Linked DNA regions of Homo sapiens: region 2 is linked to region 1. A link means that fine-mapping ties the variant in region 1 to the expression of a gene that starts in the linked region. Tissue or cell type: whole blood. Region 1 holds a variant in brackets; the other region holds the start of a gene. All regions are shown on one strand. Distances are from middle to middle.

Region 1 (8,106 bases):
TGTTTCTTTTTAAATAGTTGGGGGAAAATGACCTAGAAAACCAAATTGCAGTTTGGTAGCCAAAATTAACTCTTGGTTTATTTGTCCTTTGTGTGTGAAAAGTCCTACTATTCCGTGCGTCAGACTTCCTCACAGAACTGTTGACTGGTTTTGGTTCTTAGTACTATTGAGATCTTTCGCGTCGATCCCAACGGCCTTAGCGGCGGCAGACTGGAATAACACCTTACACCTTTCTGGCCTGCATTTCTGTAGACTTCACTCTCAAGGGAGGAGTTTTCTTTTCTTACGTTTTGACTTTTGCACACCATATGCACTAGGGATTCTGGAAACTTCTAGCATGACTGCAAAGTGGCCAAGAGAATAAAGTCCTTGATGATAAATCACAGTATATCCCTTGAGCCTCACCTTATTGCCAGTGCTAGATTTTTTCTTTTTAATCTCTCCGTTTTTGCTAACGAAAACTTGAAAAGCTTATTTGGAAGCTTAAATGTTTTATCTTTTCTCCATGGACTAAACCTCTCCAGGACTCTCTCGGCACCTGGATGTCCAGCTCTCGAAGCAGCCAGTCAGATGGGACATCACAGTTCTCTCATCCTCCTTGAGGCATGATGACCTCAGCTCATAGTGATCAACCGTTGTGCTGTGTGTCATTGCTACCCCATAACCAGTTACAGCATAGATGTCGCTAGTCTCAGAGGGCAGCTGCGTATTTAATTTAACTCTGGTTTATGACCTGACAAAAAGCCAAAAATATCACTCTTTCCAGGAGTGGGGAAAACTGAGGATGCCTCCCAAGTCTAGTGGCTTCACAAAAGATCATCCTGTCTTCTCTGTCATGCCCACTGAGCTCCTATTCCCCTACGTGTTACAATACACAATTTAAAACGCCATTGTGGGAGTGAAGGGTTGACATTTAAGGAAAAGGTTGAGGTGTTTCTCTCATGGGCTGTCTAAAAGGAGAGACACGTTTCTTTCTTTCCTTTTTTTTTTGGCTAGGCCCACCATGACTTGTGACCTAGAACCCCCAGGATTAACAGAGGCCTCACATTTACTCTGCAAGCTGACTCCAAAGGAGTCTACAGTCCTTACTTGTCATGCCACACTCACACATCCAGTAGTGGTCTCTATCTACCCGCATTCCTAGCTAGCTGGCACTGGCCTCAACTCCAAAGACTGCCTTTAGGACCATCAAATGGCCTATGCAAGCAAGCGGGGTGGTTATTAGGACAGATTGTATATTTTGTATATTCTGGGACCATCCCTTCAAGACACGTCTATAAAACAAAAATGGCGCTTGGTCCACACACGGTTGCTGCTCCCTCCTACCAGCTGGCTCCCCTCCTGTCCTCCTTTGACTGTTTGACTCATTGACTGTTAAAATGCCACCCCATACATATTTGGGATGCAAAACTGAAGTCAAAAGGAAATAATATAAGAAACACAAACACATATATGACAGCAACCTTCAAGATCTGGGTTTTCAGCTTTCTGCAACCTTTGTTTTCACTGAAATGTTGAAACTACTCGTCTGAGGGCAAAGGAACCTCCTCACAAATGCTATAGCTGCCAATTGGACACTTGGGGCATTTCGAGGTCTGGCCCTAAGAATTTACTTTCTCCTTTTCCTTTTTTCTATTTAGACCAAAAAAAACAAAAACAAAAACAAAAAAAAAAACAAAATAATACAAAACGAAAAAAAAAGAAAGAACACCCGTTAACACACACGCGCACACACACACAAAATCTGTCCATTTGCCGGAGGCAATTGTATGTATGTTAGTTGGAGGGTATTAAAAATCAGTTTTATTCCAAAGATTTAAAACTAGACATGACTTAAAAACAATTTCTGGAGCACTGCTTGCTGACAATCTCGTAGTTCTCTGCTGCATTTGAGTGCATTTTGTGGCCAGTCCATCAGGGCGTACCATGGGATTATATTTGAATGTGTGGTGCATCCTTCCTGGATGAAGGATGTGTGAGGGACCTTGAACCTCAGCTGTATTAAACTGTAGCGCCTCCAGTCAGTGCACTAGATGAAACTTTTAGACACCCTGAATTCTGTTGGTTCCTTTCTTTTCCTTTATGTAGCAGCCTCCAGCATGAATGCACGCACACGCCAGTGATGGCATTAAGCCATGGCCACCACGATTTGCAAATGTTCTCTCCCAAGCTGGAGCTGCTCTTGCCTCTCGAATGCTATTATTAAGGGTTTATAATACTTAATTTAATTTTCGAACTGACCAATGCAAGGCTCTATTAAAAAGAAAGTTTAAAAAATGCAAAAGAGTAATCATTGCTTGTTTGCTCCCTATTTTCATCTGTGGTCTCATTTGAATGTGGCAGAACAAAGGCCCTTTGGTCCTCATCAGTGTCTGAAATGTTCAGTAATTTCTCTCTCTTTTGTATCAGTGAGGTCCTTTGTAATCTGCTCCTGACCTTTCTTGGAGCAGGGTGCATTGAAACTCAATGGTGGTGCTTGCTTGCTTCAGAGTCATTTGTTGACTGTGAGAATTGGCCTAAGAATTTGGTGGGTGCTAAGTGGATGGCTTTGAAACTGTTCTTCTTTAGCCGAGTTGACACCTGTGAATGATGACCAGTCCTGATCATTTTGGAAATGGATTTGTAATAAAACGTCCATCACCTCTGCAGTGGCAGAGATGGTTACTAAGAGCCGCTAGAGCGAGCAGGTTTTCCAAGAAGTAACCTGAAGACATTTTGCTCCCAAGAGGACTGGTTATTTAAAACAGTGCATTAATGGACATTTGAAACACATTAAACCCCTTTCTCATTTCAGTTGTTACCTCCTAACCCTCCAGGGGATCCCAAATTTGAAAGGAAAAACCCGGCCTGGTGTTTCTGGTGGTGTCCTAACAAGCACGCTTTTATCCAGGGTTCAGATTTGTTCATGTAGAAAAAGAGTTTCTAAGCCACTGACAATTTTTTTTTTTTGTAATTTCAAATTATACTTCTTTCTCCTGCCACATGACTGTAAGTCATAGACATGGAAACCTGAAATTATAATGCTGCTCCTAGCTACTGGCCTCCTGCCCCACCCATGGTTAATGGCTCAGCTCAATGCCTGGTGGTAATGAGTATTATGTCCAGAAAAAGAGATGTTCAGATTCCATGACAAAGCTGCATTTTTGTAAAAATATTGGAGACCCCAAAATGAACTTCATGCTGACCATTTCCTCCTCTCTGTGTGCTTTCCCTTGCAAAGCCCTTCAAATATCCTCTTCTCTCGACGCCATCTCCTCTCCACCTGCACCTCTTGTGCCCTTTGTACATCTTTGATTGCCTGATGATAACAGGGTAAAAGGACAGCCAACCTCATGCCTGATTAGCAGAACTGAATCCTAGTTTTAAAAAATCTTCTCTGGCTTCAGAGAAGATTTTATAAGGACTTTTGTTTGGGATAAGCTTTCCAGATTATCCATGTCTATTTGCATCAAAGGGGAAAGAAATGGGGCTTTTGGATGGCTCTTCCAGTGCATTCGGAACATTGCCTCTTGCCTTTATTCCTGCATTTTATGGCAAAGCCAAAAGAAACTCAAGTTGCAAGAACAAAACCCAGTGACTCGTTTTGATGGTTCAAAATGGTTTCCTTTATGGAAGTCACTTCATAAA[A/T]TGTTAAGTAAAAAGTGGGAAGTGCTTCTGTCTTCTCTTTTGCATGAGTTGCTTTTAGGAGCAGGAAGAAGGTAGGCAAAGTAAGATAAAGATGCAACACATTTAACTACAAAAATCAGGTTCATTTTTTAGTTTATTAGAATTTTTTTGAAATCTTAAGAGGGCCAGCATTTCTGGCTACAATTTTGCACCCAGAACATTGCCAAAATGAACATTCAGTAAATAGAACCTGATTGAAATTTACTCCTGGAAGCTTTCCTTTGCATTTTCGGGAAGTGGCCACCTGCCAAGCGCAAGAGTTGGGGGGCAGGAGGGGAGGACTCAAATTCAGGGTGTCTGGATTAAATTTCGGTGAACATGGTGATATCTCAGTTTGAAAACTAGAGGGCCTATCCTGAGTATACATCAATGTCTCTTTGATGGCCTACTTTCCTCAGTGAGGATCTTTGGGAATACTTGAGATGGAACAACAGAAATGTGTGAAAGGAAGCAGAAACTTCTTGTAAATAACGTGACCTCCCACGACGAACTGCCTGAGGCTTCAGGGTTTTTTCTTGCTTTTAACACTCTTAAATCTCCTCTGTTGGTTCCTAATAGATCCCAGAAAAGGGAAAAATAAAGCTGCAGTTAACTTTCTTATGTGCATCCTTCCAATAGAGTACTGTATTTTTCAGGTGTTTTGCATTTAACATAAAAGTCCTCGGGAAACAGGTGTCAAAAACAGAGAGAGAAATCCTGGGCCATCACTTCACAAATATCCCAAACAAGATATTCTTTTCAAACAGGGCTCCCTCTCAGTGGTCATGAGGGAAGGTTGATAATGTTCTTTGTTGGGGACTGTTTATACAATTTTTTTTCAACTGTGAGCTTTGGAATCGTAACTTGCTGTGAGTCCAGCTTCTGTCTACTGCCATAAGATGGACCCCACGTCAGCATAATGAGGGTGGTATATATGCTCGCACCTAGACATGCGCATATGTACCTGTCGTACCTTCACGGAAGGAAAACAGGCTACTGACGTTTCGGAGGAGTAGCCACCAGTGCCTAATATCTTTTGGGGGGGATGGATGCTTATAATTGCCAGTATATCGAAACCACACTGGGAGTTCCACATAGCGGGGAGGGGTTGGGGGTGGGCAGAGGGGACATTTTAAACCTAGGCCTTTGGACTGGAGGCAGAACGATTTCTGCAAACCTAGGTCCTGAAGGCTTTGGGGCTTATTGGCTGGTTCTCAACCTTTTTGTTTTTTCTTCCCAGCATGCATTTCCTATCTAAACCCAGACTTAGTTTAATTTCCTTATCTTTCACTTCTGCTTCATTCCAGGGAGGAAAAATACACCTGTTAATGGCCAAGATCTCCTTGCTAACACAGAGGCAAAAATAAATGTCTAATGTTTTTGAAGCCTCCCCTTCCTTTCCACAAGCCCCCACCCGCCCCCGCGTCAAGCTCCTTCTCCCACTTCCTACTCCCACACAACTTCCCAGCCACTGAAACTTTTCTTTCAAATCTCTATTATCCTCTTAACAGTTGCTTGAATAAATTTATTTTTGCACTATACATTTTCTTTTTGCCAGATGTGTCTAACAAGTGTGTTTGGAGAGACCTACTCCCAGCCCCGTCTCCTTCCCCGCCTCCCCCCGTCACATTCTCTCAGGCCTTCTCTGGTATTTATAATATATCACAGAAGTACCCAGTCTTATAGCCCTCGGTTATGCCTTTTTTTGACATTTTATTTTTTTTAAGCTTTTTATATATATATATATATAAATATATTACTTTGTCAAGTTTTTTTGCTGTACAAAAGTCTTAAGATTTAAAACTATTATTTGTATTATATGATGGTGGTATGTTAATGTTACAAAATTATTAATGAAGAAAAAATTTATTTTTGTTACTGGTCTGTTTCATAATTCTTTTTTAAATTGGTATATTGTAAGATATCTATGCAAAAAATGTTATGTGACGCATTTTTATTTAAGAATGTAATATGTGTAATAAACAGTAGAATGTGTTTGGCCTTGGAATACTTTACTGTATTTCTCCTTAGCTTGTTTCACTGGGGAAAAAAATCTTCGAAAGACGCAAGTGGGTACTTACATACTTCGTGAAAGTTTTCTTTCTTGGAGAAAGGGAAAGCAAAAGGTTGTATTAGGTTATCTTCGTTTGGGAAGTTGTGTGTGTGTGTGCGTATGTGTGTATTTTATAGTTTCATTGAGGCAGCTCAATGCCCAAATAAGGGTCACTGAGTTTATTTCTTCAAGGGGAAAAAGGGAGCCAATTGTTGGAGATTATGAAAAGCAATATTTTAGAATGATAGAGATTACAAGATGTTATTTGTTTAGGGGGTTGGGAGAGGCTTATTGAAAGCGGTTTATTTGGCGAGAGAAGGAGGCAGTTTGTTCTGGGATGGTGTTTAATAGGAACCTATTGGGAAAGGATCTTTGAAGCAGTCTGTGAAGGAGGAAGGGTAAAGATCAGAGGGAATAATTTAGGTGAGGGGTAGGGGGCAGTAAAATGACAGGAGGTGGTTGGAGTGGGGAGGAAATGGGTAACCGGAAGCCAGGAAATCCAGCTGGCTGTGGAGAGTACAAAAAACTAGATGGAAATACAAGCAGCTTCAGACCCAGAGAAGAGAGGGAGATGAAAGCCCCAGGGAAAATTCTCAGAACTGAAAAGAAAAGTACTAAAATCTCTGCCACACACGACTTCCAGGAAAGAGCATCACCAGTAAGGAGGAAGGTAGAGAACCCAGCTGGTGGTGTCGCCTCAGCATCCCGAGCTCAGCGATTCCCCGAGAGAAGTGGTGTCATTCACAGGAAACAGCAGTAAAACACATTTGTCACATGGGACACAGCAGTAGTCAAGCTTTCTTTGCATTCTTTGGACTTACAGAAGTGGATACGGTGGTGAATAACCTCTATCCCTAATCAAATGAATCTGACAAGAAACTTTCCAATAAATGTTTACTTTAGAAACCGTGGCTAGTGTGACTGAATTTGCTGCATGGACACAGACATTTCTCATGTCCCTGAACAGGAAACAGGTGTCAGGAGTGTAACAGCGGGTTTGGAAGGGAAGCTGAGTGATCAAGTTCTTGCTCTCATAAAACTCAAGGTGAAGAGAACAGTAGGTGCTGCAGGGGCCGGGAAAATGGTTTTGAAGTGTTAAGCATCAGCTGCCACATCTCCCGAACAGGCAAGTGAGCTGGGCAACACGGCAGCTCAAAGCTGACTGAGAAGAAACCACATGTGTAGTGGGGAAAACACAGCCCCTGGAGTCTGAAGACCTGCCTCCTACTCCCTGTGTCTTCAGTAGCTCTGGGACTAGATGAGTAATTTCATTCTGATAACCAAAATCATTTACCTGGAAATTTCTCTGAGTGAGGAAGGATAAGATAGCTTGGCAATATTACCTAGAAGAAGGCTCATTATTCCACTCCCTGACTTACAAAAAGATATCACATTGAACATTTTAGGTGAAGGACAAATTGCACTGTACTGAAATGTTCAGACAAGAGGGTGGTAAGTCTAATCTATCTGCCATAAGGAAATGAGATGGTTTACATAAGTGAATATGCTAAAAGACTTAAGCTTACATATTTAGAAATGAAATTTTTGCTTAAGACTGGTCTAAATATATATATTGCCCACTTTACAACCTTTTTGAGCATCCATTTTTACAATATAATATAAATTCAGGGATGACTCCAGACTGCCGGGTTGCTTGCCCTGGCACAAAATGACTCTATACTTTATATTGGGTGATTCTACTTTCTCTTCTGTGTTCTCCCTATTTAGAAGTTGCAAGTTCTTTGTGTGTCATCTTCTAGAAATATTTATCTCCTAGTCAACTAGACGATCAACTAGGCAAGCTTGGTAACAAGAATTCTTAAGTGCAAAAACAACTATAATTTGAATCCAACAGGCAGTAGTCTGAAAGTGTAACCTGCATGTCCTAGGGGGAAGAAGGTGCGTACCAGCTATAATCTGTGGTTGTATATGGAGTTGGGAATGCTGGGGTAATGGAAAGAAGTCTCATAAAAAGCAGAGTTCAGTGGAATTGATAAATAATTTATTATTTGTAGCTCATTTTCCACTTACAGGTTTAGAAGAGGAGATGGTTAAAACTTTTAGCTAAAATAAGATTTTGAGGTCACTGGCAGGTGATGGTTTTCTGTTTTATCCATGAGCCAATTCCTAATTCCTTCTCCAACATTAAATATTTTATCTGAGAGTTTAAAAACTATCAACAGTTACTGGCTTGAACTTAACCTATTAACTTTTTTGCCTGATCATGATATAGCTATACATACAACAACACTATATTTAAAAATGAGGAAGTGATGACAAAGTTACAGGAGGGTGGAAGAACAAAATTTATGTTTGTTTTATAAACATTTACTTATGTTTCTGAAATTTTTCATTTTACGTACACTGCATTTGAGTAGTCCAATAAGACTGCATACACTGAATAGGTA
Region 2 (8,106 bases), 90 kb before region 1:
GTCTTTTGGATAATTTGCTGCATCTTCTACATTACTACTTGCTCCTTCCCTTGTACTTTAATGTCATGGAGATGACTTTTTCCCTTAAACCTCATAAATCGACCTCTGCTATCTTCCAACTTTTCTTCTGCAACTTCCTCACCTCTCTCATCCTTCGTAATATTGAAGAGAGTCAGGGTTTTGCTCTGGATTAGGTTTTAGCTTAAAAGAATGTTGTTGCTGGTTTGATCTTCCATCCACACCACTAAAACGTTCTCCATATCAGCAATAAAGCTGTTTTGCTTTCTTATCATCTGTGTGTTTATTGGAGTAGCATTTTTAATTTCCTTCAATAACTTTTTCTTTCCATTCACAGAGTGGCCAACTGTTTGGTGTAAAGGCCTAGCTTTTGGTCTATCTCGGTGTTTGATATACCTTCTTCACTAAGCTTATGTCTAGATTTTGATTTAAAGAGATATGTCACTCTTCCTTTCACTTGCACACTTAGAGGCCATAGTGGGGATATTAACTGGCCTAATTTCATTATTGTTGTGTCTTAACGAATAGGGAGGCCTGAGGAGAGGAGGGGAAGAGCCAGTCGGTGGAGTAATTAGCACGCACACACACACTAGTTAAGTTCTATGTCTTATTTGGGCACAGTTCATGGTGCCTTAAAACAATTACAATGGTAAAACCGAAATAACTGATCACAGATCACCATATCAGATATAATAACAAAAAAAGTTTGAACTATTGTGAGGATTACCAAAATGTTACACAGAGACATAAAGTGGGTACATGTTGTTGGGAAAATTGTGCTGATAAGACTTGTTCCAAGCAGGGTTGCCACAAACCTTCGATTTGTATAAAAAAGCAGTATCTGCAAGGCATAATAAAGCTATGTACAATAAAATGAGGTATGCCCATATAGGACAGAATGAATGTATTTTAATAACATTTAGTTTTATTTTCAAATAAAGTCTTAAGCAAAGCTTTCTTCACTGATTGGTCTGAAATTTGGTCCCAGCTTTAAGTAGATTTACTTTGAGGAGTACTAATCACACTGGGATAATAAAGACTTCCTACACTAATGAAGCAAAACTTTACTGGTGGAAACAGCCTGATGCCTTTAATGTGTGTATTCACATATTAAATTTTTACTATTTTATTCTTAAAATATCCTCATTTATTTCTAAGCTCCCCCCGGGTGGGGGGATAATTTATTATTTACTCTAGGGTGTTTTCTATAGGATTACTTCCAAAGATTGACATTATTAGAAGTAAAATGAACACCTCCCAAGGCAATACTTGTGGAGAAGACAGATTTTGGAGTCGATTTGGAGGCAGACCTGTATTCTAATCTGCTTTTACCCACTTACTGGACACATGGTAATGAGCAAATTACATGCACTCTCTAAACTTCAGTATCTTCATCTATAAAAATGGAGCACTAAGAGTTCCCTCACAGGATTGTGGAGATCAGAGGTATGTGTAAAATGCTAGGTACAAAGAAGGTAATCAACCAGTAAGTGGTAGTTACAACAGTGCAGTTTATTTTGGTTTGCTGAACTGCCAAAGTTCTCTTGTGATCTTAATTTGTTGATTACTTTGTACATCTGGATACCTTGCATGTGTTTTGCAATGTGAATCTTGGGTCTCTAGGGTATAAAAAGTAGCTAAATATAACTAATATTGAAAATGTGCCTTTCAGAATGCCTTGCTGCATAAATCTCTTAAAATGAATCTAAAATATTCTACAAAGCTTGGAGCAAAGACCATAATGAGGTTTGCAGTATTTGCTTTGTAAAATTTTGGTTGAGTCCTTTTGCAAGTCAGACGGCTGATAGTTACATAGGAAAAGTCTCAATGGAAGCCTCCTCCTCCGGCCCCACCCAAGCAATTTTTGTAAACACACACTGACTTAAAGCTGAGGAACCCCATTTTTCACCATACAAAGCTCAGTACAGAACAGTGTGGGGAGTCAGATGCTCTTGGATTTGAACCCCTGCTTGACCACTTCCAGGTTGTGAGACCTTGACCAACTTACTTAGTATTTCCAAGCGTGGGTATCTTCATCCATAAAGTTGGGGATACTTTGGGGCTGTCCTTAAGATTAAATGAGACATTGCATATAAAGTGTTTATGCGCATACGGCACATTCGAAGTGCTTAATAAATGGGAACTATTATTTGTAAAATCTTCAAACTCACGTTAACCGATATGTCCTATTTTATTCAAAAATTGTTATAATGTAACACACACAAAATAAGTTCACTTGAGTCTCAAGTACCAAATTATATGGTTGGTCTTGCCTCACCTTTTGCCTCTAGTTTTCTATACCCAAGTTCCTTTCCTTCCCCTATTATTCATGAACATGTTTTTTGCCCTAGTGTTTCTCAATGGTTCCTGCCCATCCCCCCAGTTGAAATAGCATGGGGGTCAGGGGAGAGCATGGAGAAGGGGAGACCTTGTAACAAACTAGCAAGGGGTTTCTACCTTTCCTCTATCTCCAAGATTCTATTAATAGTATATTCTCCTAAAGGTCCTATTAGTTTACATAGCTCAAGTGGGGAGACAATGATAGCTAATATTTAGTATTCACCTAATAGTGTCAGATACTATGCTAGGTGAGTTACCAAAGATATTTTGACTCTTCATAACAACTAGACAACGCGGATCCCACTATTTCTGTTTCTGAGATGGGTAGATACAAGTTCTGACCCAGTAATTCGCTCAAAGTCGTGCAGCTAGTTAGCTGGCAGCGTCCTTGCACATCTAATTGCAGATGCATCTGCATCTACATTAGAGTAAATGTTCCAATTATACTCATACAATGAATGCTATGAATCTGGCCAACAGAATTCCAGACACTAACAAGTAAATAAATCAGGCTTTCCTCAATCCCAGTAATTCATGTTTAATATTCCTTGGCAAATACTGAATTTCAATCTGTGCTTATTTCATAGAGTAGAATCTTTCAAATGTTGTGTTATCGAGTCCTACATAGTCAAAGGGAGGGGAAAGACAAGGAGGGTGATTAAGGTGAAGCGTTTCTTCCATTACTGGTAGAACGAAGTTTCTCATCTCTTAAGCACCGAATTCTGCAATCATTCCAAAAGTGGAAGCTCAGCTCACAGCGCATTTTGGGGAAGCTTAAACCACACTAACCATTTAAGGTCAAGCAAACAATTGGCCAACCCTAACGTGAATTGTGCAGGGTTTTCATCTCAGATGTAACAGATCTCTCTATGTCTACATCCCAACTCCAGAAAACGAGAAATCGAGTTCCTCCTCTCACCATCGAAGCTCTGCAGACACCTCGCTGGAGACCCCATGGTGAGCCTCATCACGTAAAGGCCCCCTCGCAAGCTGCCGGCTCCAGCTTGCGCCCCACGTCTACCTAGGCTCCCTCTAGCCTCTTTAACGCACAGTCGAGCAACAGGCCCCTTGCAATCAACTCTAGCCGCCGGACTCCCGACCAGGTCTCTCGCTCGGGGTCAGAAGGAGGCGCGGGAGGGAGGGCGGCGGCGGCGGCGCCCGCGGGGCGGGGCGGGGACTGTGCGCAAGCGGGGGGCGGGCGCAGGCCGCGGTCTCGCTCCGCTCCCCTTTGTTCTCTCCCATTGTGTGGCACTTCCTCCTCAGGCGCTTCTTCTCTGCACCCTGGCAGCCCGTGGGGAGTTCGGGAAGGGGCCCTGGATGCCTTTTCTGCTTGTTTTTGAGTACGTGAGGACCTCCCCGGCACCGCCTCGCGCGGGTCCCTGCCCCGTGCCCAGGCGGAGGCGGGGTGGCCACTGTCCTTCCTTCCCGCTCCGCGCCCTCGGCGGCTTCCCCGCGGCCCCCTGCGCCGCGCCCCCTCCAGGAGGCGTCCTGACCCCGCACTCCGGCCTTTCACCTCCCGACCGTCAGCCTCAGGGCCGCCGCGGCGACGCGCGACCCCTTCCCTCTGAGGGGCGCGGGCTCCGGACGCGCCGGGCTCTGCCAGGCATCTAGTGGAGGGTCGGAGGTCGGCGACCAGCCCGAGCCCAGCCGTCCCGGGAGCTGGCGCGAGTGTCGCCACGACCCTCCCTGTCCCTTGCGCTCGCGCTGCCCGGCCGCCGGGCGGCCGCCTCAGCCCCCTTATATAGCCCTCTAAAAATAGCTCGCCTCGCACCGCCTTGTAAGGCAGCAGGGAGATCCGCAGCGTGCCAATCCGCGCCCGCCGCCAGGGCCAAGCCCCGCCCCAGGCTCTGCTCCGGGCTCCCCATTGGTCCTCAGTGACTTCATGAGCCCCCTGTTTACCTTACATGGTCACACGCGGCCTAATGGACGCCCTCCTCGAGATCCCACGGCTGCGCGGAGAACCGAACGGAGGGAGGGAGTTTGGGGAGGGGGAAGAGCAGGAGGAGGAGAAAAGGGAGGGGGAAGACTACAAACTAGCAAGGATGGGGTGGGGGGTGGGGAGGGAAGGGAAGGGGGGGGAAGAGAAGCGATCGCGAGAGAAAAAAATGCAACCTCCCAAAATAAAGAGCAAAGATTGCATTAGGAGCGAACAGCGCTGCAGAAATAGATGGCAGCTTCGTGTCAGTGAGTTTGCATCCCCCTTCCTGATCCACGAGCTGGAGTGATTAGAGCCCTGGAAGGGAATTGTTACTCCCGTGGAGAAGTCCCCTTTTCCTGGCAGTCGTCTGCACTGTACACGCTGGATGCCTCTCTCCATCCACCCCACTCACTCGCTCCTCTCTCACCTCCTCTCTCCCTCTCCTGCATTGATTTTTTTTTTTCCTTTTTAGTTGACTGAAACAAAACAAAACAAAAGGGCCACTGGATGTCTGCCTTCTTGGGGGGTGAGCCAGACAGACTGACAAACAAACAGCCCCAACTGTGTTCGGGGGAGGGTTTCGCCTCCCGTTTTGCCCGGCAGCAGCAGCATGGACGTGTTGGCTAGTTATAGTATATTCCAGGAGCTACAACTTGTCCACGACACCGGCTACTTCTCAGCTTTACCATCCCTGGAGGAGACCTGGCAGCAGGTGAATGATTTAAATTACTTGTGTAAATCGTGTGGTGGCGGCGGAGACGCAGGGGCTGCGTTGGTGTGGGCTCTGGGTTGAAATTTTTGTTTGTTTGTTTGACTTTTTTTTCTTCCTTTTTGGCTGTCTGTTGTTGAAAATGTTTTCTGAAACAGTCATCTGCGCTTACCTCTCCACCCACCCCTAACCTCGTAGAGTGCCGAGCTGAGCAGCCGGTGCGAGCTGCCTGCGTTTCAGTCGCCAACACACATCCCTGCGCACACGTTGTCGGGTTTGCTGTCCCCTATCAGAGACCTGCCGAACTTCTGGGGTTCGGAGGAGCCGGGTGGGAAGGTGGTTTGGGGTGTTAGGAGCGATTGCTGACAGGGACCACGTTCTCGCATGCATGAGCTCTACCCACTTGATACCTGAAATCAGGTTCATCTGTTTCAACTGGTGCTTATGACCATCGGATGGGGGGCGGGGGAGGGTGGGCAGGAGCAAAGCGGAGTGTTTTTCAGTAATTAGCGAGTGTCAATAAAGAATAGGAGCTTGATTTTGAGATTAGAAGGTAGGCAAAAGAGAGAAGAGCCCACTGACAAAAGATACTCAAGGAGGACGGGAAGATGTAGCTGAGGCTGACAATGAATTGTAGGTTTTCCCAGTGTGATCCCTCCAGAAAGAGAACACCCTCTATGCGTGTCCTTGTTTCTCTTTTTTGTTTAGGGTCCTTCTCTAGTTAGGCAGCACAACCTCGGACAAAGGCTGATGTGTGCTTCCATGCCTTTGACTTTGTCTTAGAGGACTAGTTAAGAAACTCCCAGGATGCTGAAGGGCACCGATGCCAAGTTGGCTAGCCGTCCCAGGGAGGATGAAGTGGGGCTGGTGACAAGTTCACTGGGCTTTGTGAAGTGGAATAAAGAAAGTGCTGGTCAGTGGAAAGTGCTGGCTCTGCTGCGGAAACAGTGGTTTTTTTCAGCAGCGATTAGGAGCTGCTGAGGGGACATTCTGCAGGAAAGATGGTGGGTGGGGGCGGGGGGACACGGGTATTTAAAAATTGTACAGTGTGCACCATGGAAAGTCCAAGAAGACAGTCCGGATTTGCACATAGGAAGTGTGAACTTGTACAGTCCGTCCTGGAGAAACCCGCTTGCCCTTGGGGGGAGGGCTGTGAGAGGCTCGGTGTGTGGCTGCTCGTGTAATTTCTTCGCTTAGTGACAGCAGCTTGTTAAGGCTAATGAACGGCTGAATTTCCTCTGCCGGGATCCAAAGCAGGATTTGCCAGCTTGAGGCTGAGATGTAACAGTCTCTGCTTTAGCAAAAGAGGTTTGGCTTTTGGTATAAGGAGCCGAGTGGCAAGGCGGATCCTTTAACTGTACCATTGTTGCTAGTTCACTTCTGGTCAGAGGCTGTGAGTTTTCCTCCAGGTATTGGCGTCTGGTGTCTCTGTGTCCACACATGCATTCTTGTCCAAGGACGCTAGCAGATGCTTGACTCTGTCTCTCTGTAAACACATACACAGTTCACATATTTTTAGAATAAAGTCTTTCTTCAATGCATCCTTTTCCTTATCCTTAACGAGAGTGTGTCTCATGAAGGGTCTCACTGGATCTTTTTCTTCCTTTTATTTCCAATGCTAATTAAACCAAAATCTTCTGAAATAGCCTTCATTTCACACTGTCAGCCCACTGGTATGGAATCGGTTGCATATTAACAACTGTCTAGACAGGTTAGAGAAGGGAATCTGTTGATTTAGTCAGCCTGCCCAAGGCAGCCCTTGTTTGTGACTAACTGTTAAGCAGTGTTAGAAGGAAGAAAGTTGGCTTTATTTGTTAGAACGTTCCCTACTGATGAATCATGCAACTTTGTTTTGGTTCAAGTTTTCAGAGTAGTAAAGCCAGATTTGGAGGAAGGTCTCTTCACAGGAAACCTGCTTTTCTAGATCTGGCTAGACCATCCAGGACAAACTCTAGATCTGCAAAGAAACATCATCGGTTTGACAACTAGAGGATGTATTAGATCTATTGTTTCCTAAGAAGCCATCTCTGCTCTTCCTTCTCCCCTCCTCCCCCTGCTCCTCTGCCTCCTCCCCATTCAGGGAAGCTCTAGTTTAGTTTCTACAGGCAAAGGATTTTTCACCCCTCGGAACCCCCTCATTTTTTGCCTTAACCCTCTCCAACTGCCAGCCACTCTCACCTTAAAACCCTTAGCCAACTTATTCAGCGTCATGCTTATAGCCAATGCTGATGCATAGCTTGTGGGGAAGCACTAATAAACAATATATCACTCCAGTGAGCTTTATGTTCTGGACTCCGTAATCACAACTGCTCTATATAAAGGCGACTAGGACCATAGGTTTACACTGATGACAAAACCTTTAACCTCTAGCCCTTCCTTCTTCCCCCTCCCAAAACCGTCTTGCTGCTTCTGAGTATAAGGGGTGGTGATGGTGATATGCAACTGTTAGTTCCAAATCAACTATCGGATAATGAAATTTTGAGACTCTTTTGCTCAAAACAGCTCAACAGGGTTTCTGCAAAGAACCCCAGACAGGAAGAAGTTTCTTTATGCTCTGGGGTAATCAGATTTTAGAGGTCAAATGAGGAGTAATTATTAGATGTTCTTCTTAAAGTGAACAATGTACCTGGGCTCATGGAGATGAGCAAAATGTGGAGACTCTGATAATCTGACTTGGTTTCTAGAGAAAGAGTGGCTTCGATGATAAACTCAAGAACATTTTTACGTTTGAAAATTGAAGATAAACAATTTGGGGATTTTATTTTAAACTTAGGATATGGGATAATTGTCCTGCTTAATAGTCAGTGAGCCTGTGACAAAGTCACTGACTGTGGCAGGGCTCCCTCTCGTCACGGAGATCCTCGTTTTGACATTGGATTTTCTGGCAATGATGCCTTAGCCACATAGCTCCAAGTCTGAAAATAATCGTTGCTGGTATAATTCTGAAATCCAAATGGACATCACACATTAACAGCTCTCCATTCCTGGGCTCTGACTGCATACTTAAGCACTCGGCCCAAGTAACATCATCTTTCTGCCTGTCATATAACTGTAAATTACACTGTGCTTATGTGGTCTATTATTTTATAGAATTCAGCTGACGCGCAATTCTTAAGACTAC

The links. PIP is the estimated chance that this variant, and not a neighbour inherited with it, causes the effect.
Region 2: KLF7 starts here. The variant in region 1 is fine-mapped to the expression of KLF7 in whole blood (INTERVAL, PIP above 0.99).

Annotation. Positions count from the first base shown.
Region 1 is chr2:207,072,635-207,080,740 of GRCh38, reverse strand. KLF7 (KLF transcription factor 7) reads left to right here. Exons shown (of 4, transcript NM_003709.4): 4 at 1-6,604. Among named protein-coding and RNA genes, the nearest start is that of MIR2355, 33 kb to the left of the region's middle. The variant A/T (reference allele first, on the strand shown) is at 3,628.
Region 2 is chr2:207,162,349-207,170,454 of GRCh38, reverse strand. It overlaps KLF7 (KLF transcription factor 7), which reads left to right and starts at 4,507. Exons shown (of 4, transcript NM_003709.4): 1 at 4,507-4,988. The coding sequence starts at 4,887. MIR7845 (microRNA 7845) reads right to left here and starts at 4,055; the gene lies at 3,957-4,055. RefSeq lists silencers at 2,996-3,045, 3,666-4,305 and enhancers at 2,663-3,371, 3,372-4,079, 4,080-4,788, 4,796-4,895, 5,497-6,205 and 1 more.